Linked DNA regions of Homo sapiens. The protein of the gene in region 3 interacts with the protein of the main gene of each other region in a pairwise test. Each region holds a gene or a part of one and is shown on either strand. Other genes may lie near its edges. The genes, in order: JADE3, SEM1, DR1, LPIN1, FAM117B, BAHD1 and SPATA22.

Region 1 (3,829 bases), on a different chromosome or scaffold from region 3:
ATTTGGAAGAGTAGGTATGTGAACTCACTCTGCCATAAGCACAAAAGCCATTATTTAAATCGGTTGTTAAAACGAATCTTTCTTTTTTATCTCAGGGCTTCCTTTGACAAATGCACTTGAAAACTCACTGTTTTACCCACCACCAAGAATTACCTTGAAGTTAAAAATGCCCAAATCAACCCCAGAAGACCACAGAAACAGCTCCACAGAAACCGATCAGCAGCCCCACTCTCCTGACAGCAGCTCATCTGTTCACAGTATAAGGAACATGCAGGTGCCTCAGGAGTCACTAGAAATGAGAACAAAATCGTATCCGAGATACCCACTAGAGAGCAAGAATAACCGTTTGCTGGCCAGTCTCAGCCATTCTAGGAGTGAAGCAAAGGAGTCCAGTCCTGCTTGGAGAACCCCGTCCTCGGAGTGCTATCATGGGCAGTCACTGGGAAAGCCTCTGGTCCTTCAGGCTGCCCTCCATGGACAGTCTTCCATTGGGAATGGGAAAAGTCAGCCTAACTCCAAGTTTGCCAAATCCAATGGCCTGGAGGGCAGCTGGTCTGGGAATGTCACCCAAAAAGACAGCTCGAGTGAGATGTTCTGTGACCAGGAGCCTGTGTTCAGCCCCCACTTGGTCAGTCAGGGCAGCTTTAGAAAATCCACTGTAGAACACTTTAGTAGGTCCTTTAAAGAGACCACCAATAGGTGGGTGAAGAACACAGAGGACCTCCAGTGCTATGTGAAGCCAACCAAGAATATGAGCCCCAAGGAGCAGTTCTGGGGTAGACAGGTTCTCAGGCGGTCTGCAGGGAGAGCTCCATATCAGGAAAATGATGGCTATTGCCCAGATTTGGAGCTGAGTGATTCAGAGGCAGAAAGTGATGGGAATAAAGAAAAAGTCAGGGTAAGGAAAGATAGCTCAGACAGGGAAAATCCTCCCCATGACTCTAGACGGGATTGCCATGGTAAAAGCAAGACACATCCCCTTTCCCACAGTTCAATGCAAAGGTGATTAGAAACTTCCAAGGATGACCCAACCTTTGCCTTTGCCCCATATATTGGGGAAAACCCATACACCAAAAGGATTTTAGCATATGTTAAGAGGAATTGCAGTGAAAAGGATAACATTTTTCCATAGTAAATTGTCTTGCAGTTTTTGAAAATGTTTCAAGTCTAGTTTTTACAAGCACATTACAGTAATTGCAGGTTGTCCAGAGGTTGGTTTGTCAGAGGCTATTGGGAACAGCTGGGCCCAGGGTATTTGCTCAGTAAATATTTTGGGGCAGCTTTCCGGTTATATAACACATTGACAAGTATATGTATTAAGAGTCCTTGCATTGTTAACTGATTTGCAAGAGACCATGATTATCAGACACTAAAACTACTTATCTTTTGAAGCTACAGCATGTGACTCCCCAGAGCTCCTGTCTGTAGGAAGTTTCTAATTCCACTGGTATCTATAAACCCTTTTCAGGGGAGAGACCAGGAGACCACCATCTTAGATACTGTCAAACTCACTACTGTCTTCCTTTGTTCTGCACAAGGTTGAGTTTCTTTCACAGTATCTTAACTTACTGAGTCAATACTCCTCATGCTTATCAGTGTCCAGTGCCTGTTCCTAAACTTGCTTGTTGGGGACACACTCATAACTATTTCACCTGACTGACAAGCATAAAAGGCTAACTTGTGGATAGTGTTTACAAAAGTACAAAAGTACTACTTCCAAGGAAAATGCTCTGATTCTCTGTTTAGGCATTTGTGAAGGATTCCAGAGCCTTTCCCAAAGTGAGACCATTTCTGGGGTATTTGTACCAGGTCAGGGTTTTTGTGTTGTTTTCAAATAAGTTTGACTAAAATAAGTTTGGCTGACAGTTTTTGTATACCTGCTTTAATGTTTATAAAATTTTTATTGAGGTATAATTAAAATATAGTAAAATGCACAGAGGTTAAGTATTCTTACCTGCTTTAATTTTGAAACAGATTTTTATTGTCAAACAGAATTTGAAAGCATGTGTTTAACACATGGATATAATTTAGCTTTGTGTCACCTTTGAATCTGAGGCAGTTTCCCAAACAAAAAGGCTGGAGCCATTTTTCAGAAGTTGCTTATACCCTGTTCCCAAACTATCAGCCTTGATTAATTTCTAGTAGGAAGAGAATAATTACATTTGCGGGGGGGGGGGTGGATAAAAACATGTCTGCTTCTCATTTAAATAAGAGAGAAATGATGCCGTTTTTTAAATGTGAAGCAGACTATAATTCTCAGCTCTCTTTTCTTCTTAGCCTTAAATTAATATTCTCTTTCTTCTAGTTTTGGAAAGTGTAGTGGGAATATTCAGACAAAAGAGGCCATTTTCCATTTTTAAAGCTTCTTACTGGTGAAACAGCCCAGTTGTAGTAGGTGCCAGTCAGTCAAGGCAGGGGCCCTCTCTCCGTCAATATGGAAAACTCAGCAGTTTTCCTCTCCCCCAGTTGTGTTCTTGTAACGTTGTTAATGGGTTCCTTTGCTTTTTGCTTTCTCCTTTTCTGAAAATGTATGTGTTTTGCCTCTCTTTTGGCTACATCTTCAAAATATTTCTTTTGTGCCTATGTACATGTGTAAACATGCCATAGCATGTGTGGTAGGTGTCCTGTATTTTGTTTGGGAAAAAAACTATCAAAATGAGGAAGAGAATTTCCCCTATTTATGCACTAGGTTTCTGTGCTTTTTCTTTGAGTTCTCTGGAGTAGATATTAATTTGATACCTTCATGGTAATGAAATTATGATGGAGCTGTGTTATAAATTCCTTATGTCAGAGGCCAGTGCGGTAGCCTTTGTCCCTTCATGCCTTTCAATTCTGAGTGGGAGGAAAAGCAAACATCAAAACAGTGCTTCAGCCAAATTCCATATGTAATGCCATTGGGAGAGTATTGACTAAAATATCATTCGTCAGGGAAATATAGTTGTAATATTTTTACAGGATATTCCTAGGTAAATGAAGGAGCCTTCAGTTGTAAATTTCAATTACCCCAAAATGTATTTGCTACATTTTGTTGTTTGAAGTATTACCTCTTAACCTTCTTTGTTAATTTTTTTCATTTTGTCTTATATAGTCCAGTTTTCCAAGATAAGCTCAGTCCTTTTTCAAATGTCCCCTTTTTACCAATACTTTTTCATTAAATTATGAAAACTGCTACCTACTGTCAGTGTGTTTTTTATTTTGGCATATTGGTTACACATGTTCCTTTTATATTTAAAAAATTATATTCACTGAACAAAACAGATAGTGTGGGGAGAGGGAGGAGGAAGAGGAGGAATTGAATGTTTAGAAGCACACATTCAACATTCGAGTCAATACCGGGGACCCAGGAGAACTCTGGATACTTGAACTTTACCCAGAAATCATGATTTTATCAGACTGTTAAGATAAAGGCCTTAGGATCATCATAAAACATCACCAGAGAGATAGATCCTATCTAAAGTGACAAGATTGAAAAGGCTTCAGTCAGGCATCTCTATTTGGAGTCTTGTGAGTATGTTGATGTCATGGGGTTATGTGGTGTCAAGGGGGGCTTTTAGGCATTATAAACATTTTCATGATTGAAAAATGTACTTGCCAAAGGTCATTGGGTAAATCAGTAGTGAAGATAGGTAAAAGGTGAAGTTGGTTCTCTCTCTCTCTCTCTCTCTTTCTCTCTCTCTCTGCTAGAGAACTGAAACTACAGGTATACCCTGTTATAGCCAACAAAAGCTATTGAGTTTATACTAATGTGTACATTTCCAATGGGAGATGAATCTTTGTCCTTGTGTTGAAGCAACTTTAAATTCAGAGGATAAGCCAAAGAATGCACAAT
Region 2 (4,168 bases), on a different chromosome or scaffold from region 3:
TCCAAACTGGTCAGAGGCTTAAAGCTTTCCATGCTGAGGCCACAAACCACCTGCATTTGCAACTACTATTTCATAAGCAAATACAATATACATACACATTTATTTTTCACTTCAAAGCACCTACACCTTTTCCCTTCTTTTGAAAACCCCTTTCCTACGTTTCTTTTGAAAGCCCTGTTCAAAGGTTGCTACCTCGCACTGTACATAACTGGAAGTAATCTGTTTCTTTTGAACTGCTGTTGCACTTTACTATCAGTTGAAGGAAACCAAATTACATCTTACTCAGAAGCCCAACAGGTAAGAGAAACAAAGGCAATGTTGCTATGGTTTAATTGGTGGTAGGGAGAAAAGGGCTTTGAGTCCCACCCCAGGATAAACACTTCCAAAATACTAAAGCACTCTAGCTTGGTGTTAAAACCACTGATTCTTCTCTCCCTTAACTACTACTTACTAAGTTCAAAGACAAATATCTATAGAAGTCAAATTTGCTTCAAGACAGCCTCTAATTAACTGTGACCTTGGGTAAATTAAATTTTTCTGATCCCTAGGTATAAAACTTATACCTCAAAGAGCTATGAAGACTCAATGACACTGTGTATGTAAAGCACTTAGTACTGATAAATGGCAGCTAATACCATTCTCTCTGTACTTTTCAGTACCAGATTTATAGGAAACACTCAACAAATACATGTCAAATGAATAAATCCTTTATTACATACATGCTAATCACTGGAAAGGCAATTTGTGGGATGAGAGAGGTGAGTAGAGAAACATGTCCTAGAATATAAACAATACAATTTCCACCAAACATTACATGTACACCAGAGTACACAACCAGACAAAGGATTAAGGATATTTGGTAAATTTTAAATACTTATGAAGAAGAGTACACTCATCCCTCGGTATACTCGGGGTACTTGTTCCAGGACAGCCCAAGTATACCCAAATCTATGTATATTCAGGTCCCATGGTTAGCCAAGTGGTAGTCAGCCCTCTCTACAGGTGGGTTCCATATCCTGTGAATATCGTACTTCCTTTTCCCATTTAGTTGAAAAAAATCTGTGTATAAATGGACCCTCACACTTCAAACCATGTTGTTAAAGGGTCAACTGTATACAGTTTTTGAAACTTATTTTCCTCTCAATGTTTTCGCAGTTCATCACATCTTTCAATGAGTAATGTTTAACAAACAAGTAGTAACATTAAACACTACTTAAACCACAATTGCTTACTGCTTGCTCATTCCATAGAACCAATGAAATAGCTAACCAAATAGTTTTTCAAAGAGTTTTTCAGTGTTTAATATCCTGGTTCACACCTCTCACTATCCCTTCCCAAGCACCAGCATCTTGATTTGGGGGTTTTTCATTCCAATCTGTATATACCCCTAAATAATGTATGTTACTATTTTATGTGTCTTTCTATGAATAACCACATTATTAAGTACTTGTGGAAAAACATTTAATGGCAATTTTTTTAAATTTACAAGTTTCTAATACTGCAAAATAAATCAATTATCAAATAATTCACAAATTTAACAAGCTTAATTTTGAATATATTCAAAATTACTAAATACATGTCAGACACAGCTCAAATTCTAAATAAATATTAAACATCATCCAAAATCCAAACTCCTAAGTACATTAGAGGGGAGAGAAAAAAGGAGACTAATGTTTACTGAATACCAACTTTGTGCCAGACTCTGTTTACATATGTATCATTGTTCTGGACTAAATCTTTGTACCCTGGCCCCCCAAAACCCCCCCAAAAATTCTTATGTTGAAGCCCTCATCCTCAATATGATGGTATTCGGGAGGTAATCAGGATTGAATGAGGTCTTGCGGGTAGGGCTCCCATGATGGGATTAGTGCCTTAAGAGACACCAGAGAGCATGCACTCTTTCATTCTGCCACAAGAGAACACAGCACAAAGGCAGCCTTGTGCAAGGCAGGAAGAGTGGCCTCACCAAGAACTGTATCGACCTACACTTTAATCTTGGACTCCACAGCCTCCAGAATGGGTGAGAAAATAAATCTCTGATGTTTAAGCCACCCAGTCTATGCTATTTTGTTATGGTAGCCCAGGCCAACCATTACAATAATGTAATTCTTTCATGACTCTAATAAATATTATTAGCCATATATTACAGATAATGAAATTGAGGATTAAGATGGTAACAGCTCAGAGAAAAACATAATGGTTAATCTTACTTAAAAAAATCAATCCAAATCAAAATGATACAATTTTATTTTTCATTCATGAGGTCAGTAATGACTAACATGTTTACTATCTAGTGTAGCAAGCTTATGAGGGAAAAGGTGAACTGTAGATGAAAACATAAATTGGCATAACCCTTCTCAAAGGCAATTTGAGAGTATCTGTCAAAATTTAAGATATGCCAGGTCTAAGATGAGGTGTCTAAGCCCAAGTAGAGCAAGGAGGGCATTCCTGGAGAGGGGCAGCATGGTGTGGCTGGTGTGTCAGAGCCTGGACAGAACGAAGTCACCCACACTAGAGGATGGGAGGGTGGCCTGGCATAAAATGTGGAGCCCAAGTTGGGCAAGAAGGGCACCTGTTGGGGGCAGCAAAGATTGGTTAGGAAGGGGGATGACCAAATAGACAATACATTGAAGATAATGGAAGCCAGGTTTCTCACTATTGGAGAAGGGAATAACAAATGTAGAAAGGGAAAAAACTAGAATGAATCCAGTGGTGTTGAACTGCAATTGGAGACATCTGTGTGAACCCATGGTTTTATACATACACACACACACACACTCCTGTACATCCCTAGTTCCTTCCACTTAGAGGGTCTGGGAGCAGGAATATCCCAAATGCAATAAACATAAGCAAAGTGAAGACCCTGCATTCTAAATACCATTCTCCACTAAAAAGAAATCACATTGGAGCAACGGCTGATTTCACATATAAAATTAGTTTGGAATACACCTTGTGCCAGAATGCTAGGAAATGCACAAAGAATAATGGAGACATGGCAAAAGGACACAGAAGACAGCCTGAAGGAGTTCTGCATGTTCAAATATGGGACAATCTGAGAATCCAAATAATAGTTACAAATTATAACCTACTGAGTCAGAATCCACTAGTCCACACTGCTATACATTTTTTAAAAGATGAACAAGTTACAAGTTTGATGATCACTGGAATACTGTATTTACATAGTTTCAAAGTCCCTCCCCCAAAACTGCCTATTAGGAAGGGAAAATTAGTAACCTAACAATGGAAAGGCCTAACAAACACCACCTTAATAGTGATTGAAGTGAACATCCCCAGTAATGGAACAAATGAGAATAATGTTCCACCTAAAAAGATGTCATTAGAACAGAGCACCAGGACTACAATGTAGAACTTCTATCATGAGGAAATAGGCACAGGTGAGGAACATTCTACAAAATATCTGGCCTGTAGTCTTCTAAAGTGTGAAAATCATTAAAGTTAAAGACAAACAGGAAATGCTCTAGACTAAGGAAGACTAAAGAGACAGGACAAGATAATGTAATCCAGGACTCTATAGTAAGACATTATTGAGACAATGGGAGAAAGCTGAAAGTGATCTGTGGGTTAGATCATACAGGTTGAGTATCCCTTATTCAAAATGCTTGAGACCAGAAGTGTTTCAAATTTTGTATTTTTTTGAATTTTGAAATACTTGCATTATATATTTACAACTGGGCATCCCAAATCCCCTAATCTGAAATTTCATGTTGGTACTCAGAAAGTTTGAGATTCCGGAGGATTTCAGATTTGGGATGCTCAACCTATAGTAATGCATCAGTGCGTTAATTTCCTGATTTTGATGGTTGTCTTGTGACTATGTCCTTGTAGGAAATACACATTAAAATACTCAGGAGTGATGGCCATCAGGTTGGCAACTTATTCACAAATGGTTTAGAGAAAAATGTTTGTACTGTACTTTCAACTATTCTGTAAGTTTGAGATTATTTCAAAATAAAAATTATATTATAAAAAATGAGTCTGCCAATTCAATTTGGCAATTCTTCTCTAGGAGTTTATCTTATAGATTAGCACACACACAAAAAGATGTAAACATATTCATTATCTGTAACAGAAAAAAAACAACAAAACCCAAGCAACAAAAACCCTAAAGCTATAAGGTTATTCACTGCAGCATATTCCATTTTTTTTT
Region 3 (4,168 bases):
CTAGTAAAAAGATACTACTTAAAATCCATTCATCTGATATATCCTCTATTAAAAACAACCACAGGATTTAAGAAACCAGGATGCATACATTATTAATTACCTATGAAACAGCTAAGGCTCCTTCACAATTTAATTTCATCTGTTTGCAGAAAAACCACACCAAGAAGGGAAAAAATGAACCTGTTCTTAAAAAGGTCTTACAATTTCCCATTAGACTCTGCCAAAACAATCCTTTTCTCCTTCTCTGTCTGTTCTTGGAATTGTTCTTTAAGTCCAACTCAGACCCTCCCCTTTATGCATAGCTAATTCCTAGTCATCATCTGAAATGCAAATCAGCTAGTCTTTCTTGACCTTTCCAAGCCATATTTTATGCTCTATTTAATATACCATAATTCCCTATGCATTCCCATATCCATCCACTTTGTTCTAGAATTATCTAAGTTTATATCCTTTTTTTCCACCACACTTGAGAATAGAGATTGTTTCCATATTCTTTGTTGCATTCCTAACATAAAGGCCCTCAGTATTTTCTGAATGAACATGCTACAGGAAAACAGTGATGCCCAGCATAACCAGTAACATTTAAGATTTTACCATGTACAATCCTCACTCTTCTGAATAATCTGTCATGACTTTATTATCCAAACATTTCTAGATATAAATTCTAATCAGGTCACTATTTCATTTTTTTAAAAAAAATCATTTGTTATCAATCAAATCCAAATTTCCTAGCCTAGAGTTCAAGGTCTTCCAAATTAGTGTCTACCCCAACCTCTCTATAGTCTTTTTTTGTAACATGTACTTTGTGCTTCAAAAAAGCCTAGAACACAAAATGTTTCCCAAATATACACCATACTTCCTCATCTTTGCTACCTTTACTCATGCTGACACTCATCCTATGTGAAATTTCCTGCCACTTACTGAAATTCTACCCTTCCTTCAAGTCAAACTGAAATACTATTTTCTCCTCCTGGCATCAGTCAGTGTATAATCAAGAGATAGATGTCACATGAGTTACTGGAATGGAAAAAATTTAATACGAAGAATTGTTAAACAAGTATAAAGTTGTTATTAGGGAGCTGAAAAGGCAGGAAGAGAACATGAAGATGTCATGAAAGTAGCAGCTACAGGAAGCAGCCACCAACCCTAAAACTGAGGGAATAAAGGAAAATGCTGGAATTTTTAAAATTTAGAAGCTTAAGAAACCACTTCATGGAACTGAAACTCAGGCCTCGGAAGAATGGGCATAGATAAGCTAGTACTAATATATCTGCGCTTGGAGGAGGGCCCCAAGGGTTGGGATCCACACTGCCAGAGTGGGGGGATGGGGTGCGGGTTCAGGCTGGTGGTGTATTAGAGAAAATGCAAACCGCGTTCAGTCTCTGCTACAGGAAAACTGATGCAACCAGGGTGAAGAAGTGTTGCTGGGTTGTTCAAAGGAACTGAAAGACAAGAGAAAGTAAGAGAAAACCCTTTCTCTTCCTCCATCCATGCAATCTCCCACGATAGCCCCATATGGCAACAGAGTCTAATGGAGAGTCAGCTAGCAAAGAAACATGTGGCTTGCAGAGTACTAGGTCCAGTCACAAAGCAGAGCATAGAAAGGTGGGTCTGGAGCTAAGATAATTGCTTACTAGTTGGCATACTCCTGTACCCCTAAAATTTGATGTAATGTTTCCATACTTGGGATTTCTTTCTCTTTCCTTCTTCCCTCTTTCTTTCTATTTTTGTAGAGAGAGGGTCTCACTATATTGCCCAGGTTGGTCTCAAACTCCTGGGCTCAAGTGATTCTCCCACCTGGGCCTCCTAAAGTGCTATGATTACAGGTGTGAGCCACTATGCCCAGCCAGAATCTCTTTCTCATAAGTGGTCAGCCTCATATTATAGTTATCTTCCTCATCCAAGTAGTCAGTCTCATAATGATATATTCTTCATTTTTTTTTATATCTATAGTACCACATATGTCTTACATACAGTAGGGACATGTTAATTGAATTCTGACTTGAAATTTGTTGACTGAAGGGCAGGAGTAGGGTGGTGCTGGTGTAGGTGGCAGTAGTGAAGTGGAAGAAGAAAAGCTATTACCTTGGGGGAAAGCTATCCAAGTAACCATAGTATCAGAGACTAATAAAGGAAGAGGTCTACATTAAATGTTATTTTTAAAAAAACAGATGAGTAAGAATTGAAAGGAAAAAAAATTACTGAATTTGGTGATTAAATGCCTCTGTGGTAGGACAGAAGTTAAATTTGAGGAATAAGTGATTGTACATTTTCAAAAAATGGTAGCACTGATCATTATTTATTTATTTATTTATTTATTTTAGAGATGGGGTCTTGCTATGTTGTCCAGACTAAAGTGCAGTGGCTATTTACAGGCATAGTTGTTATGCACTGCAACCTTGAACTCCTAGCCTCAAGGGATTGTCCTGCCTCCATCTCCCGAGTAACTGGGACTACAGGAAGGTGCCACCTTGCTTGGTGGGTAACACAGATCATTATAGCAAAAGATGAAAGGGTTTGGGGGATACAAGGAAATGCAGAAGACCCGTATATGGTTAAAGGCAAAGAGGAAGAAATAAGTAAGGAAAAGACTATAGATATTAGAAAAAACAAGGATAAGACAACTTTTACAGTAAACAAAAACTTCATTTTGCTTAGGAAATTAGAAACCATCCATTCTCCCTAATAATGACTGTCATCCATTTTTGTAAAGAAATAGGAAAAATAGTTGATTCTAACACAATAGCATATTTACTTTTACGGCAGGAATATCCAGAGTTCAAAACCAACTAACAGAGCTTCGCTAAAAACATTTTAAGGCCGGGCGCGGTGGCTCATGCCTGTAATCCCAGCACTGTGGGAGGCCAAGGTGGGCGGATCGCCTGAGGTTGGGAGTTTGAGACTAGCCTGGCCAGCAGGATGCAACCCTGTTTCTACTAAAAATACAAAAATTAGCCAGGCATGGTGGTGCATGCCTGTAATCCCAGCTACTTGGGAAGCTGAGGCAGGAGAATCGCTTGAACCCGGGAGGCGGAGGTTGCAATGAGCCGAGATAGCACCACTGCACTCCAGCCTGGGCAACAGAGCAAGACTCCATCTCAAAAAAAAAAAAAAAATTGTAAGAGTTCATAAGAAAATTGCAGGGCAAATCAAATACATAAATTCAACCAACATAAGCATACCTATATTTTGTGGTCTAATCAACTACAAGTTGGTATAATTTTGTGACATGGAAAAAATTCAAATAATTTCAAGTCTCTACAAAGGTTTTACTGCAAAGGTGCTTGATTTGGTAGTCTATTCAATGGTCTGCAAAGCTGTGTACTAGTTACATTTCAAATTTAATTGACTTTTAGCTACCACGGCCCTGTATCAGCGCTGATACTTTTCTCTGAACATAAAAACATTTCTATGCCTTTAAAACTAACTGTTGAGCTGGGCTCACTAGTGCACATCTATAGTCCCAGCTACTCATGAGGCTGAAGCAGGAGGATCCCTTGAGCCCAGGAGTTCTAGGCTGAAGTGTGCCTGATCGAGCCTGTCAATAGCCACTGTGCTCCAGCCTGGGCAACATGGTGAGATCCTGTCTCTTTAAAAAAAAAAAAAAGTTGATTGATAAAATTTTATTTGTATTCATTTCCACAAATTGAACATTTTTCAGTGATATTTACTGTAATATATTTTTTTCTCTCTTGCCCCCTACTCAATCCATCCCAAGTATTTTTCTTCTAAAATTGGGGTGTGAAAGACAGGTAAGCAGGCATGTATTTCCTAATTCACTTTTCTTTTGGAGGTTTTCATTATGTTTTAAGATTCTCACTCCCACATATTAAAATGACTCATTTATAATTTAAAGTTAACTTTAATCTTGATGTATTAAAGGTTCCCTCCTTCCAAATATTTGCTGCTAGCTTCAAATGAGGCTGTCATTGTGTTAATATTTAAAGTCTAAAAAATGAAACAAAATGAAAGTGATAAAAAAGATATATTTACTTATCCACTCTTTCATATTTAGAACTTCAGTGCTCTAGGGAAGAAGTACTAGGCAACTGCTATAATATTACCTCTCCGCTGGTCATCCTCACAATAGTAAAGAAATACTAGAGATCTTCATACATAAGTCAGGGTAAGAAACAAGGGAGACAAAAAAGAGGAATAAAAAAACAGA
Region 4 (4,168 bases), on a different chromosome or scaffold from region 3:
TCAATGTGACATCGTCTAGCTTGACCTTCTGAAATAATACAAATTTTCTGAGGTTATTACATCCCACTGGAATACCATCTTTCCAGATACCTCTGGGTTAGAAACTGTTTTATGTTAGAACCAAACAGATAATACACCAAAGAACATAAAAATCTACAAGCGTATTCCACTTAGAATTCTACCTATGACATTAATAATAAATAGCATACTCAACTCGAACAGCATCGATTATTAAAAATAAATATAGGGGCCGGGCACTCACGCCTATAATGCCAGCACTTTGGTAGGCCAAGGAGGGCGGATCACCTGAGGTCAGGAATTCGAGACCAGCCTGGCCAACATGGTCAGGCTCTCTACAAAATACCCCATCTCTACAGAAATACAAAAATTAGCATGATGGTGAGTGCCTGTAATCCCAGCTACTCGAGAGGCTGAGGCAGGAGAATTGCTTGAACCCAGGAGGCAGAGGTTGCAATGGGCTGAGATCACGTCATTGTACTCCAGCCTGGGCGACAGAGTGAGACTCCATCTCAAAAAAATATAAAATAAATAAATAAATAAAGGGATTTGAATTATTTTAGTCCACGCCTCTTAATGGACAATTCAGGAATCTGCTGTTCCACTCATTTATTATGCAAGTAAATAACAATGATTTTAATTCCCTTTCTAGTTCCTTCAACTAGAACATTACCTAAGGCACGTTATCTGGGACATAACAGTGGGTCCATTTTCACATTGTGGGTTTGCTCCTTGGAAATGAAATGATGTCATGGTAAGCAACATCTAATTATATATAAGACTGGCCGAGCAAATGCAAATGCAAAACTGTCTCAATAAATGTACTCTTACAATCCCCGTTTTTGTTCATCTTTCTCACTTGTACTTTTCTTCCTACTCTCCTTTCTTTAAGAACTAAGTGGCCAGGCGTGGTGGCTTATGCCTGTGATCCCAGCACTTTGGGAGGCCAAGGCGGGCAGATCATGAGGTCAGGAGACCGAGATCATCCTGGCTAACACGGTGAAACCACGTCTCTACTAAAAATACAAAAAATAAGCCAGGCACAGTGGCACGCACCTGTAGTCCCAGCTACTCAGGAGGCTGAGGCAGGAGAGTCGCTTGAACCCAGGAGGCGCAGCTTGCAGTGAGCCGAGACGGCGCCACTGAACTCCAGCTTGGGCGACAGAGCGAGACTCTGTCTCAAAAAAAAAAAAAAAAGAACTAAGTGTCTTGCAGGAGTTGAACAATAATTACCCCTCAAATCTGGATTTCCACCTGCCTCCTCCATTTCCTCCCCCGGCTGTCCAGGTATATGACCCCTTCATAAACATGCCCACACAACTCTATCTTTCAGCCTCAACCTTCTCCTCAGCCCTCCAGCCCAGCCATCCAGGGCAGTAGCTTGATCAATATTACTGTCATTTGTCAAGTGGCTGAACAGACATCTGTCTACCAAGTGAGTCTTCTCTCCTTGAGGACAGGGACGAGGCTTGCTCATTTCTGACGCGGTACCTGCCCCATCGCAGGGCCCATCTCAAGCAAGAAACTTTTATTTTTGGTCCCATCACGACATTCCAGAGTGTAAAACAGCAAGATGCACCCACCACCCTCAAAGTAGCTTGGCAAGTCGGGGCACGAGGGGGAAAAGCACTAAAATTTAAAAATGAGAAGAAATGGCCGGGCGCGGTGGCTCATGCCTGTAATCCCAGCACTTTGGGAGGCTGAGGCGGGCGGATCACGAGGTCAGGAGATCGAGACCATCCTGGCTAACATGGTGAAACCCCGTCTCTGCTAAAAATACAAAAAAGATTAGCCGGGCATGGTGGCGGGCGCCTGTAGTCCCAGCTACTTGGGAGGCTGAGGCAGGAGAATGGCGTGAACCCGGGAGGCAGAGCTTGCAGTGAGCCGAGATCGTGCCACTGCACTCCAGCCTGGGTGACTCCGTCTCAAAAAAAAAAAAAAAAATTAGAAGAAATGAAGAAGACAGCAGGAATTGTTCTCTGCCAGAGCATAAATTTCACAAGACAATGCTCCCAAACAAAATTCACTGCAAACAGTTTAAATAAACAGCTGTGACACCTAAGGGTAAGACTGAAAAGCAGAAATGACACAAAATTGGGGGTCGGAAGGCCTGGCTGTGAGTGTTAACTTCTGGCATTTACCAGCTATGTGTGTGGGAGCAGGGTATTAACACAATGGCTCTGACTGAGCCCACCAGGCTGTCATCCTCAGTGGTCAACACAACGACTAGTTTGGAAAGGTCTTTGCTCCTGGACAACACATGCAAAATCTTATTATTGTCATGACCTCCCATAGGAGGTGGCTACAGAAGCAAGGCTCAGGGTTGGCCCTGGATGTGACACCTTCAAAACTGCTCTCACCCGCAGCATCACCACTCCCTGACAGAGCCTCTCAGAAGGTAAAGTCAAAAGCCATTGTTCAAAACCTTCCCTACAACCCTTAAGGACTTAGAAAGGCCGAAACACCCTCCTGGGTTCAGTCTGTGATTGAAGACTTCTCTGGCACTTGCTCAGCTCCGAGTGATTCATCATTTCCTGGAGAGAAGCTACCCAAAACCCACTCACTGCCCAGAGAGCAAACACGATCTGTCACATCTGCCCTCACGGCAGGTGCTTAAAGGGCACCTGTGGGCTTAAGGCACATCCAAGGAGCCTGGTGATTCAAAAGCCAACCTAATATCACTCTGGGATGGGGTGCCCCTTATCTGTGTTCCTGTTATCAGCAGGAAATTACAGCTCTCAGATACAGACCTGGCTGCTGCTCGTGGGGCCAACGGATCATGTCAGGACAACTAAATGACCACCCCTGGCACCCTTCCTCTAGGGAAGGCACTGTCGGCTCCCCAGCTGGGCTTGACAGGGACGATTTTGGGGCTTCCTGCTCACTGCCCTAGCCGCCCTCCTCTGAGCACACTACAGTCAGTGTCTCAGCACCTGGGGACTCTATCTGTGGTCCGCCCAGCACTGGATAAAGTCACAAACATCACGCTGTTACTGGTGTTCGCCGAGATCACATCCACCTTGGAGGTTTACAAGACAAATGAGGATTTTCATCCAAAGCATTTAAAAACACAAAAAGCTTCTAGGAAGTGCCCAAAATGGTATCATGACTAATAAGACTTGCATGAAAATGAAATTGATTTATAAATAGTGTTAGCTTCCTCCTGTAATTTACACTTACGGCAAAGAGGAAGTCTTTTCAGAGCATTGTGGACTGATACTTAACGGCGGTTGATAAGGGTGATGAATTACCTGTGACAAAAGAGGAAGTCTGGCTCAGACTCAGGGTGATACAGGGAAAGGAACACAGACAGAAAGTCAGGCCACCTGGGCAGCAGCCCACGCCCTGCTGTAACTGGCACACACTTATAGGCAGCTGCTGCCCTCTGCCAGGTCTGGATTGACTGAGTCCACCAGCGTCCCTGTGGTTAAACTGTCCTGGCCAGAGTGCCTTGAGGAGCTTCTTAAACAGAAGAGCACAGCTCTGCATCCATCACTACCTGCTGGGAAATTGGGGACTTTCTTGGCATGCCAGGGTTCGTGAGACATTCCCGTCCAAAATACAAAAACTCACTAGAAAAGCTGGAGATGCTTTAAAAGGCCTGCAGGTCAGAGGCCCTGCAAGTCAGAGGCCTTTTAAAGGTCTTTCAATACTTCCTGACAAAAGTGATGAAAGAGCAAAAACAGCCAGCCCTGGGGTCCCGCCACCAAAGCCCTGCCTGTGTTAGGCAGGTGGGAAATTTTGCAGCTCTTGCAGTGAGCTTCCAGGGTGGCAAAGTGGCAGGCGTCTCCTCCTCCAGCACACCCCCACCCTGCTCATCCCCCTCCTTGCCCAGGGACAGGAGGGCGTTCCCATAATTAAGCTCATCTGTAGAACTCCAGCACACAGCAGACGCTCCAAAGCATTCACGACCGCAATTTCATACAGTTCCAGAAAGGACAGCACTGCGGACACTGTCAGGATGAGGTGACAGAGGTCACATGGTTTCTTGCCTCACGATTAAATTAGAAAATTCCACATTTATTCCAAAATTGGCAGAATCCATCTCCAGGCTTCACAAATTGCCAAGAAACGCTGCTTTCTTGGAACTGCCAAAATTCAAAACCCCTGCCACAGCTTTCCTAACCCCACAATTTTTGCCAACACCAGC
Region 5 (4,168 bases), on a different chromosome or scaffold from region 3:
AAAATGGTAATCATAGCATGGAGCCATAACCATCATGGTTATAGTGAGTACTGCATTTCAGAAACACCACCATATATAGAAAAATAATAAATGTGGCCAGGTGCGGTGGCTCATGCCTGTAATCCCAGCACTTTGGGAGGCCAAGGCAGGCAGACTGCTTGAGGTCAGGAGTTAGAGACCAGCCTGGACAACATGATGAAACCCCATCTCTACTGAAAATACAAAAATTAGCTGGCCATGATGGCATACACCTGCAGTCCCAGGTACTTGGGAGGCTGAGGCACGAGAATTGCTTGAGCCTGGGAGGCAGAGCCTGCAGTGAGCCAAGATCGCACCACTGCACTCCAGCCTGGGCAACAGAGCGAGACTCCGTCTCACACACACACATGCACACCCCAAAAAAAAAAAAAAAAGAATAAATGTGAATTTGTTGTATTGTTACAATTTTTAAATCTGATGTTAATAGACAGGTATGAATTCTCCTAAAAAAAGACAAACATACATAATCAGGTAAGTGATATATAAATATCCCTATTGAAATCTTTATTAAATCAACACAATAATTGTTTTTGTTATTTCAGAAGCCAAAAAGAAAAAAGAAATCAATGGAAAACGACAAATCCTTGCTGCCCATAATATCAAGGAAATAGCCAACAAAAGGATCATATTTCCACACCCACTATCTTAGAACCATTTTTCTGACCTCCTTAAGTTGATCTGTACTGCCCCAAGATGCTGAGCGCTTGTGAGACCCTTTCTTCTTTTCAGAGTATTCTTCAGCCCATGCACTCTCTGTCTGTAATGAAAAAAGAGGGGAGGTGTATTTAACAAAAATCATTTCACAACAATGTCTACCATATTTTTCTATTATAAAACATATTTCCATTACAAAAAAATTAGACATTAAAAATAATTAACACAAATTACTCAAAATTCTCCTGGCACCAGTTACTTAACTGGTATTAATTACAATTAATATTTTGGCATACTTCATTTTTATTGCTAATAAAAAATTAGTATTTTTACATAATTATAATTATACTACAAATAAAGCATTTATGGAACAAAGTTAACTATATATAATAACTAGAGTTACCATAGTTAACTAACATATAATAGCTAATAATGTCAGTTATTATTAGCACGCACCAGGCACACTAATAATAGCTAACATTCTTGTGCTCTTATGTGCTAGGCACTGTGCTTTCATATGCTTTATCTGACTTAACACATGTAAGTTGCCTAAGGTGTTACAAGCGGCAAAGCCAAGAAATAAACCTGAGACTCCAGAGCTTGTAATATTAACTTCTATATTATGTCTAGTCTTGCCATAAGTATCTTCAGAGAACAGCTTCAAAAATGTTAAACCTGGCTGGGCGCGGTGGCTCACGCCTGTAATCCCAGCACTTTGGGAGGCCAAGGCGGACAGGCCACGAGGTCAGGAGTTCGAGAACAGCCTGACCAGCATGGTGAAACCTTGTCTCTACTAAAAATACAAAAATTAGCGTGTGCTTGTAATCCCAGCTACTCAGGAGGCTGAGGCAGGAGAATCGCTTGAACCCGGGAGGTGGAGATTGCAGTGAGCCGAGATCGTGCCACCGTACTCCAGCCTGGATGACAGAGGGAGGCTCCGTCTCAAAAAAAAAAAAAAAAAAAAAAAAGTTAAACCTTAAGTAGTTATACCAAACCCAGAATTTAAAAAGTGTATTGGGAAAGAAAATACAAATGAGTTCCTAGCACATGAAACTATGCTCAACCTCACTGATAAGAAGGGAAATGAAAGTTAAAGCTTCAACAAGATTGAGCAATTTGCTAATATAAACTCTCCTATATTGTTAGTGGGAGCATACAGCCTTTATGGGGGGATATTCAGCACCTGCTGTCAAAGTTATAAATGCGCAAACTGACACAGCAACCCCTTATTTAACAATTTATCCTGCACAGATACCAAATGCACATCTTTATGTACAAAATGACTTGCCTATTATTCCCTGTAGCACTGTTCTTACAAGTAAGACTGAAACAATGTAAGTAAGTTAGATTTATTTAGGTTTGGCTAAATAAATTATGGTATACCTTTATAACAGAGTACTGTGCAGCTATAAAAATGAATAAGGAAATTCACAATATACAGACATGAAATAATCTCCATGATATACTGTTAAGTGAAAAACCTCAAGGCTCAGTACCGTGTGTATAGCAACTGCCTTTATATGGGACTGCTAAAAAGAATGCATGTGTGTGTAAATTATATCTGGAAGAAAATAGATGGTAACAAAGAAAATTGGTACCAGTGGCTGTCTCTGGGGAAAAAGACCCTTAGTGTATACCCTTCTGTACCTTCTGAATTTTGTACATGAAATAATAAAAAATACCAAAAAATACTGTGCAGTTTGAATATCTTTTGCACTATTAACGTACCAATTACTAATTATAAAATGGTCTAGTTTCAAATGGGGAAGGAAAAGTTTTCAAAAATGAAGACACTGTGATTCTAATTAGTCATGTCCCAGGTCTGGATCTTCTCCTTATAGCCAAAAGGACTCCATTCTGACAAGGATCCTTAAATACACTGAATCAAAAGGAAGGGCTACAATTTGGTCAACTTCCCACCACTCTATGCCCTATTTCACCCTAAACTCCAGTTTCACTTTGAGGTTACCAACTGATGTCACACATCCCAGAGGTGACCCCTACTGTACTTATAATTTCTCATATTAGGATCCACAGGCTCTTTAAGTCCATTGTTAAAATACCTGTCACAAAGATCAACATGTAAATAGGACCATATAGCATAAAGTATCAAAATCAAAAACCAAAATCAAAATAATAAACTTAATACTATAAAATTTAAAACCTTAACAAATGAATTTTTTTTTTTTAATTTTTAAGTTCAAGGGTACATGTACTGGTTACATAGGTAAACAGGTAAACTCGTGTCATGGGGGTTTGTTGTACAGATTATTTCGTCACCCAGGTACTAAGCCTAGTACTCATTAGCTATTTTCCCTGATCCTCTCCCTCCTCCCACCCTCCACCCTCTAGAAGGCCCCAGAATCTGCTCTTCCCCTCTATGTGTCCATGTGTTCTCATTATTTAGCTCCCATTTATAAGTGAGAACATGCAGTATTTGGTTTTCTGTTCCTGTGTTAGTTTGCTAAGGATAATGGCCTCTAGCTCCATCCATGTTCCTGCAAAGGACATGATCTTGTTTATTTTTATGGCTGCACAGTAGTCCATGGTGTATATGCACCACATTTTCCTTATCCAGGCTACTGTTGATGGGCATTTAGGTTGATTCCATGTCGTTGCTATTGTGAATAAGCAGCATAGTATGCGTGGTTCAGAATCACATATGTTGGTGTTAAACAAACATGTTTAAGTTTCAGATCAGTTAAATAACATTTTTTGGGCCAGGCGTGGTGGCTCATGCCTGTAATCCCAGGAGGCCGAGGCGGGTGGATCACGAAGTCAGAAGTTTGAGACCAGCCTGGCCAACATAGTGAAACCCCGTCTCTACAAAAAGTACAAAAAATTAGCCGGGCGTGGTGGCAGGCACGTGTAATCCCAGCTGCTTGGGAGGCTGAGGCAGGAGAATCGCTTGAACTTGGGAGGTGGAGGTTGCAGTGAGCTGAGATCTCGCCACTGCACTCTAGCCCGGGCGACAGTGAGAGGCTCCATCTCCAAAAAAAAAAAAAAAAAAAATTGTATCTTTACAAGATGCTTCTCTTATATGAATTTTTAAATTCCTCATTTATAAGAATAATGTCAGGCCAGGCACAGCGGCTCATGCTTATGCATGGCTAATCCCAGTGCTTTGAGAGGCCAAGGCTACAGGATCACTTGAGCCCAGGAATTCAAGACCAGCCTGGGGAACACAGGGAGACCTCATCTCTAAAAAAATGTAAAAAATTAGCTGGGCCTCATGACTCACGACTGTAGTCCTAGCTACTTGAAAGGCTGAGGTGGGAGGATTGCTTGAGCCTGGGAGGTTGAGGCTGCACTGAGCTGTGCTTGCTCCACTGCACTCCAGCCTGGATGTCAGAGCGAGACCCTGTCTCAAAAAAAAAGGAATAATGTCATCTACATACTAAAATTATAAGGTAATTAAAGGAGTTAGTATATGTAAAGGGTTTAATTTTTAAGCACGGTGCCAAGAACAAAACAT
Region 6 (4,168 bases), on a different chromosome or scaffold from region 3:
GAAGTCACGTTTCCACCATAGTCAGGGCCAGCAGGGCCTTCCTCAGTAGTGAGGGGTGTCTCCTGCTTTGTGCCTGGAGGGGTTTCCACATTGGCTAGAATGTAAAAAAGAATTATAAAAATGATTGAGGCCAGGTGCCGTGGCTCACACCTTTAATCCCAGCACTTTGGGAGGCTGAGGCGGGTGGATCACTTGAGGTCAGGAGTTCAAGACCACCCTGGCCAACATGCTGAAACCCCGTCTCTACTAAAAATACAAAAATGAGCCGGGTCTGGTAGCATACACCTGTAATTCCAGCTACTCAGGAGGCTGAGACAGGAGAATTGTTTGAACCCAGGAGACAGAGGTTGCAGATCGCGCCAGTGCACTCCAGTCTGGGCGACAGAGCAAGACTCTGTCTCCAGAATAAATAAATAAATAAATAAATAAATAAATAAATAAATAAATAAATAAATAAAAATAAAAATGATTGAATAACTGAGAGATGATTTCCAGAGAAATTGAAAGGACTTGAATTTATTTGGCCCAGAGGGAGGTAGACAAGGGGCAGTTAATATGTCTTTGCATGTTAAGATGACAGTTTAGAGCATGATGACCAGTTTTTAGTCTTCATTGCAGTCTGGGCTGGAGGCAGGGAATTTCACCTGAGACAAGAGGTATTGGGTAGATGCATGGTTGGGGGTTACCTTTTTCTGGATTTACTATAAAATCAGGACAACGTATCTTTGAAGCTCTCTCATTTATTCATTTATTTATTTAGCCCAGACTTCTTAGCATGTCACCCTTTTCTAGGATATAAAATGTTTGTTTCGGCCAGGTGCGGTGGCTCACGCCTATAATCCCAGCACTTTGGGAGGCAGGCGGATCACGAGGTCAGGAGATCGAGACCATCCTGGCCAACATGGTGAAACCCTGTCTCTACTAAAAATACAAAAATTAGCCGGGCATGGTGGTATGCGCCTGTAGTCCCAGCAACTCAGGAGGCTGAGGCAGGAGAATCGCTTGAACCTGGGAGGTGGAGGTTGCAGTGAGCCGAGATTGCGCCACTGCACTCTAGCCTGGATGACAGAGCAAGACTCCATCTCAAAAAAAAAAAAAAGTTTCTTTCAAAAAAAATTTTTTTAATTGTATTTACGTTCTAGCCCATAGATGCCATTTAATTGGAGTACATCTTCAGTTCCTCTGTGGTGGGAAAACTAATAATGTGTGGTAATGCCAATAATTAAAGCACAGAAAAATAAAACTGAACGTGCAAGTTATCTTGCATCTTGGTCTGTGATCCAGCAGCCATCCTGTGATGCCCTAAGTAGAGGCAGTGTGTTGCAGTGCAGGAAGTGTGGGCCTTGGTGTAGATGCCAGGATGGCTCACCTCTGTCCTCAATCCTAGCAACTTTTTATTTTTTAAGAGCCAGCTCTGTCACCGAGTCCAGAGTACAATGGCATGATCATGGTTCATTACAGCTTCCACCTACCGGGCTCAAGTGATCCTCCCACCTCAGCCTCCTAAGTAGCTGGGACTACAGGCACACACCACCATGCCCGACTAATTTTTTATTTTTGTAGAGACAGGGTCTCACTGTATTGCCCAGGCTGGTCTTTTAACTCCTGGCCTCCCACAGCACAGGAATTCTAGGTTACAGGTGTGAGCCACCACGCCCACCCAGCATCTCCTTTTAACTCTTTTTTTTTTTTTTTTTGAGACGGAGGTTCACTCTTGTTGCCCAGGCTGGAGTGCAGTGGTGTGATCTCGGCTCATCGCAACCTCTGCCTTCCAGGTAGCTGGGATTACAGGTATGTGCCACCACGCCCAGCTAATTTTTGTATTTTTAGTAGAGACGGCTAATTTTTGTATTTTCTCCATGTTGGTCAGGCTGGCCTTGAACTCCCAACCTCAGGTGATCCACCCACCTCGGCCTCCCAAAGTGCTGGGATTACAGGCGTGAGCCACCGCGCCCAGCCTTCCTTTTAACTCTTTGTACCTGTTTTTTTTCCTTGTTAGGATGAAATGGTAACAACTAGCTCATAAGGCTGTTGGGAAGATAAATGAGATAGTGAATGTAGTGTGCTTAGGACCTTGCCAGGTGCATAGTGAGTGCTTGACAAACATTGACCATCCTTTTACAGTAGTCACCTCTGCAGTGAATCAGAAATTTCCAACCCTGCACACTTAGGGTGTCTGGGGACTGATAATGCTAACTTTAGTTCTTTGCTCCTGATTTCACCTATCTGTGACATTCTTTGTCTTGATACAAGTGTCTGTAGTACTACATTCACTTGCTTAATGGTTTAGGGGCAGCCACAGCCAGTGGAATGCTTTCCAGAGGTAGCTGGGCAACTTGGGAGAGAGAAGGAGGAGGATGAGGCCAGGCATGGTGACTCATGCCTGTAATCCCAGCACTTTGGGATGCTGAAATGGGAGGATCACTTGAGGCTAGGACTTTGAGACCAGCCTGGGCAACATAGTGAGACCTTGTCTCTACAAAAATAAAAATAAATTTAAAAATTAGCCAGGCATGGTGGTGTAGGCCTGTAGTCCCAACTACTCGGGAGGCTGAGGTAGGAGGATTGTTTGAGCCCAGGAATTCGAGGCTACAGTGAGCTATAATTGTGCCACTGCCCTACTACTGCAGCCTGGGTGACAGAGCAAGACCCTGTCTCAAAAAAAAAAAAAAAAAAGAAAATGAAAATTGATGGTAATGAAGGAGGGTTGTGCCATGAAAATACAAGAGATTTCCTATTGTAACCTTGTTGCACTGTGGATTAAATTGAAGATGCACAGTGGACTCCTGGGGATGGAGGAGAGTTTGGAGGTCAGAGGGCTCTTGTCTTGAGCTCCAAGTGGTGCTCTAAGTCTAGGATAAAGATTTTACACAGGGTGGGGCAGGTGGACAGCCAGATCTTCATTTATTCTTACCAAGCTCTTATTAAGTCATGTGGGTGGGATTTACTGTTAAGGAAGGCAGAGCCTACCTGTCCCCATAGGGCTGGCATCCTATTGGAGGTGGCACTAGCCACTTAACTAGTTAAGTGAGTGATATTTGGGTAGGGTGCCCATAACTCTGATACGATCTGCCTTGCGATTCTGCTCCTGCTAGTGGAGTGTGGGGGAGGCCTGGTCTTGGATCTTGTTCCTCACAGCTGGTTCATTCAGGAGGTTAGTGCTCTGCTGAGGAGGCTGGAGGCAGAGCTCCATCTTGGCCTGGCTGGCTAGTTTCTGTTCAGGACTAGAGCTAGCACCTGTAGTCTTGGCAAGCCATTTTAGAAATCTAAGTTGTTGGTCCATGTAATGTCCTGGTGGTTGAACCAACACTCGTTCTTTGCCATTCCTGGGCAGGTGCTTGGAGAAGGCTGGTGAGCTGTTCATGTTTTTTGAAGAATGGTGCATCAGTAGCACAAGGTTTTCCCTGGTTCTGCTGAGGCCTGTTGCTGAGCTTTGGGGTGCCCTGTCCCCTGTTTTATTCCTGTTTTATTTCTCCCACATTGTTAGCTGCTCAGAGCAAATGGGTTTTGCTGCAGGTGTAGGTTTGCCTCTGGCTGATCCTGGGCAGTATGGCATCTGGATGGGAGGGTCTGAGGGAGCCTTAGCCCAGAGTTAAGGGGTGCCCCCCAACCCCTGCCTGGAGTCATCCTACATGGAGCTAATAGGGGCGAGTCTGGGAAAAGTTGCATTTGTTTCCTGCTTTAAGACTTTAGCTTTTGGGCCGGGCTCAGTGGCTCACATTTGTAATCCTAACACTTTGGGAATCCGAGGCAGGCAGATCCCTTGAGGTCAGGAGTTTGAGACCAGCCTGGCCAACATGGTGAAAACCCGTCTCTGCTAAAAATACAAAAATTAGCTGGGCGTGGTGGTGGGTGACTGTAATCCCAGCTACTCGGGATACTCCTGCTGAGGCAGGAGAATCACTTGAACCCAGGAGGCGGAGGTTGCAGTGAGCCGAGATCACGCCATTGCACTCCAGCCTGGGCAACAAGAGCATAAACTCCATCTCAAAAAAAAAAAAAAAAAAAAAAAAAAACTTTAGCTTTTGTTTGTCACCCTTTCCTGCATCCAAACATTTATGAAATGAATTTCTCAGAGTGCTGCCCACTCCCTACTGGGCTTTTGTTCCCACGGTACACGTGGCATAAAGTAGGCCCTCAGTAAGTGTCTAAATGCCTGGCTCATATG
Region 7 (4,168 bases), on a different chromosome or scaffold from region 3:
GCCTGCATGGATTTTTAAATGTTCTGTACTCCTGGATTTCCTGTTGTATTCCAACAGTCTGACAGCTCATGTATTAATTCAAATTGTAATATCCAATACTGGCTGCCTGTCCAGATTACAATCTGTTTACCTAATTATCTGTCTAATGCTTGTCAGAATGGATTTTCTTCTAGCTCCTGCAGTTGGAACAATGTCTCTAAGAACCATCCCAAACCACTGAACAGGCCTAGTTTTAAGGCCTTGTTATGAAGAAACTGACAGACTGGTCCTGGGGAAACTAGCATGAATAATAAAATCAAAACTAATTTTTAAATAAAGATATTATTTCAATGTATTTATTAACAACTATATAAAAAGTTCCCCCTTTTAAAAAAATACGATATCTTTATATAATAAAAATGAGAATAGTATTAACTTCATATGGTTGTTGTAAGGATTATTGAAATAACATATCAAAGCACTTAACAGTGACTGATTTGGTGTTGTTTTCCCAGCACTTTGTTTCCAAAATCATTTCCTTCTATATTGCCATTTATCCAAGGCTACTAAAATCCAACCAAGAGAAATCCATGTTCTTTTTCTATCAATTTTTTCATACTATTTAAACATTAAGCTTTGGTCCTTATGGCAAGAACCCTCACCATCTTTTTGACCAGCTTCTTCATTTCTTGAGCCCCTACTATTGCAGATGCATATGCATCACAGCCTCCATTTTTCTTTCTTCTGCCATTCCGTTTACCTTGAAGCCGGCTGTCTTACAGGATAAGACTGAGCACTCTAATTGGTTCTCAAGTCCTAAATATAATCAATACTAAGATATGATTCCTGTCTATTGTCAATTAAATCATTAATAACCCATAAGCAAAATCATAAATTCATAGCAATGAATATTGGCAGAAATTTCATTGTCATATTAAGAATCTTTTGAAGCATAATCACTGTGAAATTTACATATTTTTTAAGTTTTACATGCATGTTCTCTTAAGCTCTTTCATAAAACATAATTAATACTGCCATAGTTGTTATTTATAGAAATTTCCTAAATGTAATTCTGTCTGAGAAACAACGAAGTGAAGGAGGAGGGAAGAATGAAGAGGAAGACAGGAAAATGAGAAGGAATAGAAGAAGAAAGAAATTTTAAGTAGACTCACCTCCAACCACCCTGGCTTCTTCCAGTATTTGATTGAATAGAGTTAAAGACAGAATCTTGACTTCTCAGAGGACGAGAAACTGAATGTGGTATTTGCCTTTCAAGGGAATATGTCTTGTTAAATATTAATAGTTTGCTTTCAAATTGAGAAATTAAGATATACGTAGAAGAACAACATCAGTTAGTAACAGACACACATCCAATGGTTTATATTTCTCCACATACCCGGTGTCCACTGTTTTCATTACAGGAGCCAACTCTGGATTCACAGCTTCCCAGGCCCAATCTCAAAAGATATAAGTAACATAGATAAAAGTAAGATAGGTAGTATTTTTCAAAATGATAAATTCATACTTATTTAATTTGGAGGGTTTAAAAACTTGAAGAAGAAAAAACTTGAATATATGGATTTCTTCAACAGTACTTGTTGGAAAACCTGTCACAGCCTGCTTTATTAATTTTTATAGATGTCTTTCTTATCCATTGTATTTTAAGCAAAGATAATTTAATCTGTATCTTTTCTACAATCAGTTCTAGTATAGTATCTTTAACTTTGTAACATGAATTTCATCTAATCCAATGTTTACTGAACTTTTAAAATCTCACCCACAGAAAGAAATACATCATAACTCAGAACATATACATGCATGATATATGTGTGAGACAGAGATAGAGAGGAGAAAAAAGAATATAAAACTTCATCAAATCTTATCCTTAATATGTGTGATACACACTGACACAGTCATGTGTCACTTAATGACAGGGATACAGTCTAAGAAATGCATTGTTAGGTGAGTTTGTTGTGCAAACAACATAGAGTGTACTTACACAAAGCTGGAGAGTACAGCTTGCTACACACCTAGGCTATATGTTACAGCCTATTGTTCCTAGGCTACAAACTTGTGCAACATGTTACTGTACTCAATACCACAGGCAATTGTAACATAATAGTATTTGTGTATCTAAACATATCTAAACATAGAAAAGGTACAGTAAAAATATAATATAAAAGATAAAAACCAATACACCTAAGAGGGCACTTACCATAAATGGAGCTTGCAGGACTGAAAGTTGCTTTGGGTGAGTTAGTGATTAAGTGGTGAGTGAATACGAAGGCCTAGGACATTACTGTATACACTACTGTACACTAAACACACCATACATTTAGGCTACATTTATAAAAAAAAATAAACTGTGCTATGACATTATGACAGCTACTATGTCACCAGGAGACAGAAATGTTTCAGCTCCATTATATTTGTAATGGCACCACCATCACACAGGTGGTGTGATTGACCAAAACATGGTTATGCAGTGCATGGCTGTATTTTCTATTCTACTCTATTCTCTTCTATTTCTTTTTTCAAAGATCGATTATACCTCAGACTGATTAATGGATCAAGACAAACATTTTAAAAAAACACTGATCCTCTCCCTCTCCCTCTCCCTCTCCCTCTCCCTCTCCCTCTGCCTCTCCCTCTGCCTCTCCCTCTCCCTCTCCCCACGGTCTCCCTCTCCCTCTGTTTCCACGGTCTCCCTCTCATGCCAAGCCGAAGCTGGACTGTACTGCTGCCATCTCGGCTCACTGCAACCTCCCTGCCTGATTCTCCTGCCTCACCCTGCCGAGTGCCTGCGATTGCAGGCGCGCGCCGCCACGCCTGACTGGTTTTCGTATTTTTTTGGTGGAGACGGGTTTCGCTGTGTTGGCCGGGCTGGTCTCCAGCTCCTAACCGCGAGTGATCCGCCAGCCTCGGCCTCCGGAGGTGCCGGGATTGCAGACGGTGTCTGGTTCACTCAGTGCTCAATGGTGCCCAGGCTGGAGTGCAGTGGCGTGATCTCGGCTCGCTACAACCTCCACCTCCCAGCCGCCTGCCTTGGCCTCCCAAAGTGCCCAGAGTGCAGCCTCTGCCCGGCCGCCACCCCGTCTGGGAAGTGAGGAGCGTCTCTGCCTGGCCGCCCATCGTCTGGGATGTGAGGAGCCCCTCTGCCTGGCTGCCCAGTCTGGAAAGTGAGGAGTGTCTCTGCCCGGCCGCCGTCCCATCTAGGAAGTGAGAAGCGCCTCTTCCCGGCCGCCATCCCATCTAGGAAGTGAGGAGCGTCTCTGCCGGGCCGCCCATCGTCTGAGATGTGGGGAGCACCTTTGCCCCGCCGCCCCATCTGGGATGTGAGGAGCGCCTCTGCCCGGCCGCGACCCCGTCTGGGAGGTGAGGAGCGTCTCTGCCCAGCCGCCCCATCTGAGAAGGGAGGAGACCCTCCGCCCGGCAACCGCCCCGTCTGAGAAGTGAGGAGCCCCTCCGCCCGGCAGCCGCCCCGTCTGAGAAGTGAGGAGCCCCTCCGCCCGGCAGCCACCCCGTCTGGGAAGTGAGGAGCGTCTCCGCCCGGCAGCCACCCCGTCTGGGAGGGGGGTGGGGGGGGGTCAGCCCCCCACCCGGCCAGCCGCCCGGTCTGGGAGGTGAGGGGCGCCTCTGCCCAGCCGCCCCTACTGGGAAGTGAGGAGCCCCTCTGCCCGGCCAGCCGCTCCGTCCGGGAGGGAGGTGGGGGGGTCAGCCCCCAGCCCGGCCAGCCGCCCCGTCCGGGAGGGAGGTGGGGGGTCAGCCCCTCCACCCGGCAGCCACCCCGTCTGGGAAGTGAGGAGCGTCTCCGCCCGGCAGCCACCCCGTCCGGGAGGGAGGTGGGGGGGTCAGCCCCCCGCCCGGCCAGCCGCCTCGTCCAGGAGGTGAGGGGCGCCTCTGCCCGGCCGCCCCTACTGGGAAGTGAGGAGCCCCTCTGCCCGGCCACCACCCCGTCTGGGAGGTGTGCCCAACAGCTCATTGAGAACGGGCCATGATGACAATGGCGGTTTTGTGGAATAGAAAGCGGGGAAAGGTGGGGAAAAGATTGAGAAATCGGATGGTTGCCGTGTCAGTGTAGAAAGAAGTAGACATGGGAGACTTTTCATTTTGTTCTGTACTAAGAAAAATTCTTCTGCCTTGGGATCCTGTTGATCTGTGACCTTACCCCCCAACCCTGTGCTCTCTC

The links.
Region 1: the proteins of DR1 (region 3) and JADE3 interact in binary tests that used the Homo sapiens proteins (3 or more experiments, as listed by UniProt).
Region 2: the proteins of DR1 (region 3) and SEM1 interact in binary tests that used the Homo sapiens proteins (3 or more experiments, as listed by UniProt).
Region 4: the proteins of DR1 (region 3) and LPIN1 interact in binary tests that used the Homo sapiens proteins (3 or more experiments, as listed by UniProt).
Region 5: the proteins of DR1 (region 3) and FAM117B interact in binary tests that used the Homo sapiens proteins (3 or more experiments, as listed by UniProt).
Region 6: the proteins of DR1 (region 3) and BAHD1 interact in binary tests that used the Homo sapiens proteins (3 or more experiments, as listed by UniProt).
Region 7: the proteins of DR1 (region 3) and SPATA22 interact in binary tests that used the Homo sapiens proteins (3 or more experiments, as listed by UniProt).

The regions. Positions count from the first base shown.
Region 1 is NC_000023.11:47,058,072-47,061,900, forward strand, and holds the end of JADE3 (protein Jade-3), read left to right. Parts: intron 1-95; coding exon 96-1,006; 3' UTR 1,007-3,171; downstream 3,172-3,829. UniProt on the Homo sapiens protein: Scaffold subunit of some HBO1 complexes, which have a histone H4 acetyltransferase activity.
Region 2 is NC_000007.14:96,699,490-96,703,657, forward strand, and holds part of SEM1 (26S proteasome complex subunit SEM1), read right to left. Parts: intron 1-4,168. UniProt on the Homo sapiens protein: Component of the 26S proteasome, a multiprotein complex involved in the ATP-dependent degradation of ubiquitinated proteins.
Region 3 is NC_000001.11:93,355,672-93,359,839, reverse strand, and holds part of DR1 (protein Dr1), read right to left. Parts: intron 1-4,168. UniProt on the Homo sapiens protein: The association of the DR1/DRAP1 heterodimer with TBP results in a functional repression of both activated and basal transcription of class II genes.
Region 4 is NC_000002.12:11,752,771-11,756,938, reverse strand, and holds part of LPIN1 (phosphatidate phosphatase LPIN1), read right to left. Parts: intron 1,193-4,168; exon of another isoform or gene 1,075-1,192; intron 1-1,074. UniProt on the Homo sapiens protein: Acts as a magnesium-dependent phosphatidate phosphatase enzyme which catalyzes the conversion of phosphatidic acid to diacylglycerol during triglyceride, phosphatidylcholine and phosphatidylethanolamine biosynthesis and therefore controls the metabolism of fatty acids at different levels.
Region 5 is NC_000002.12:202,721,545-202,725,712, reverse strand, and holds part of FAM117B (protein FAM117B), read right to left. Parts: intron 797-4,168; coding exon 704-796; intron 1-703.
Region 6 is NC_000015.10:40,447,157-40,451,324, forward strand, and holds part of BAHD1 (bromo adjacent homology domain-containing 1 protein), read left to right. Parts: intron 1-4,168.
Region 7 is NC_000017.11:3,461,332-3,465,499, forward strand, and holds part of SPATA22 (spermatogenesis-associated protein 22), read right to left. Parts: intron 1,437-4,168; coding exon 1,376-1,436; intron 1,248-1,375; coding exon 1,152-1,247; intron 1-1,151. UniProt on the Homo sapiens protein: Meiosis-specific protein required for homologous recombination in meiosis I.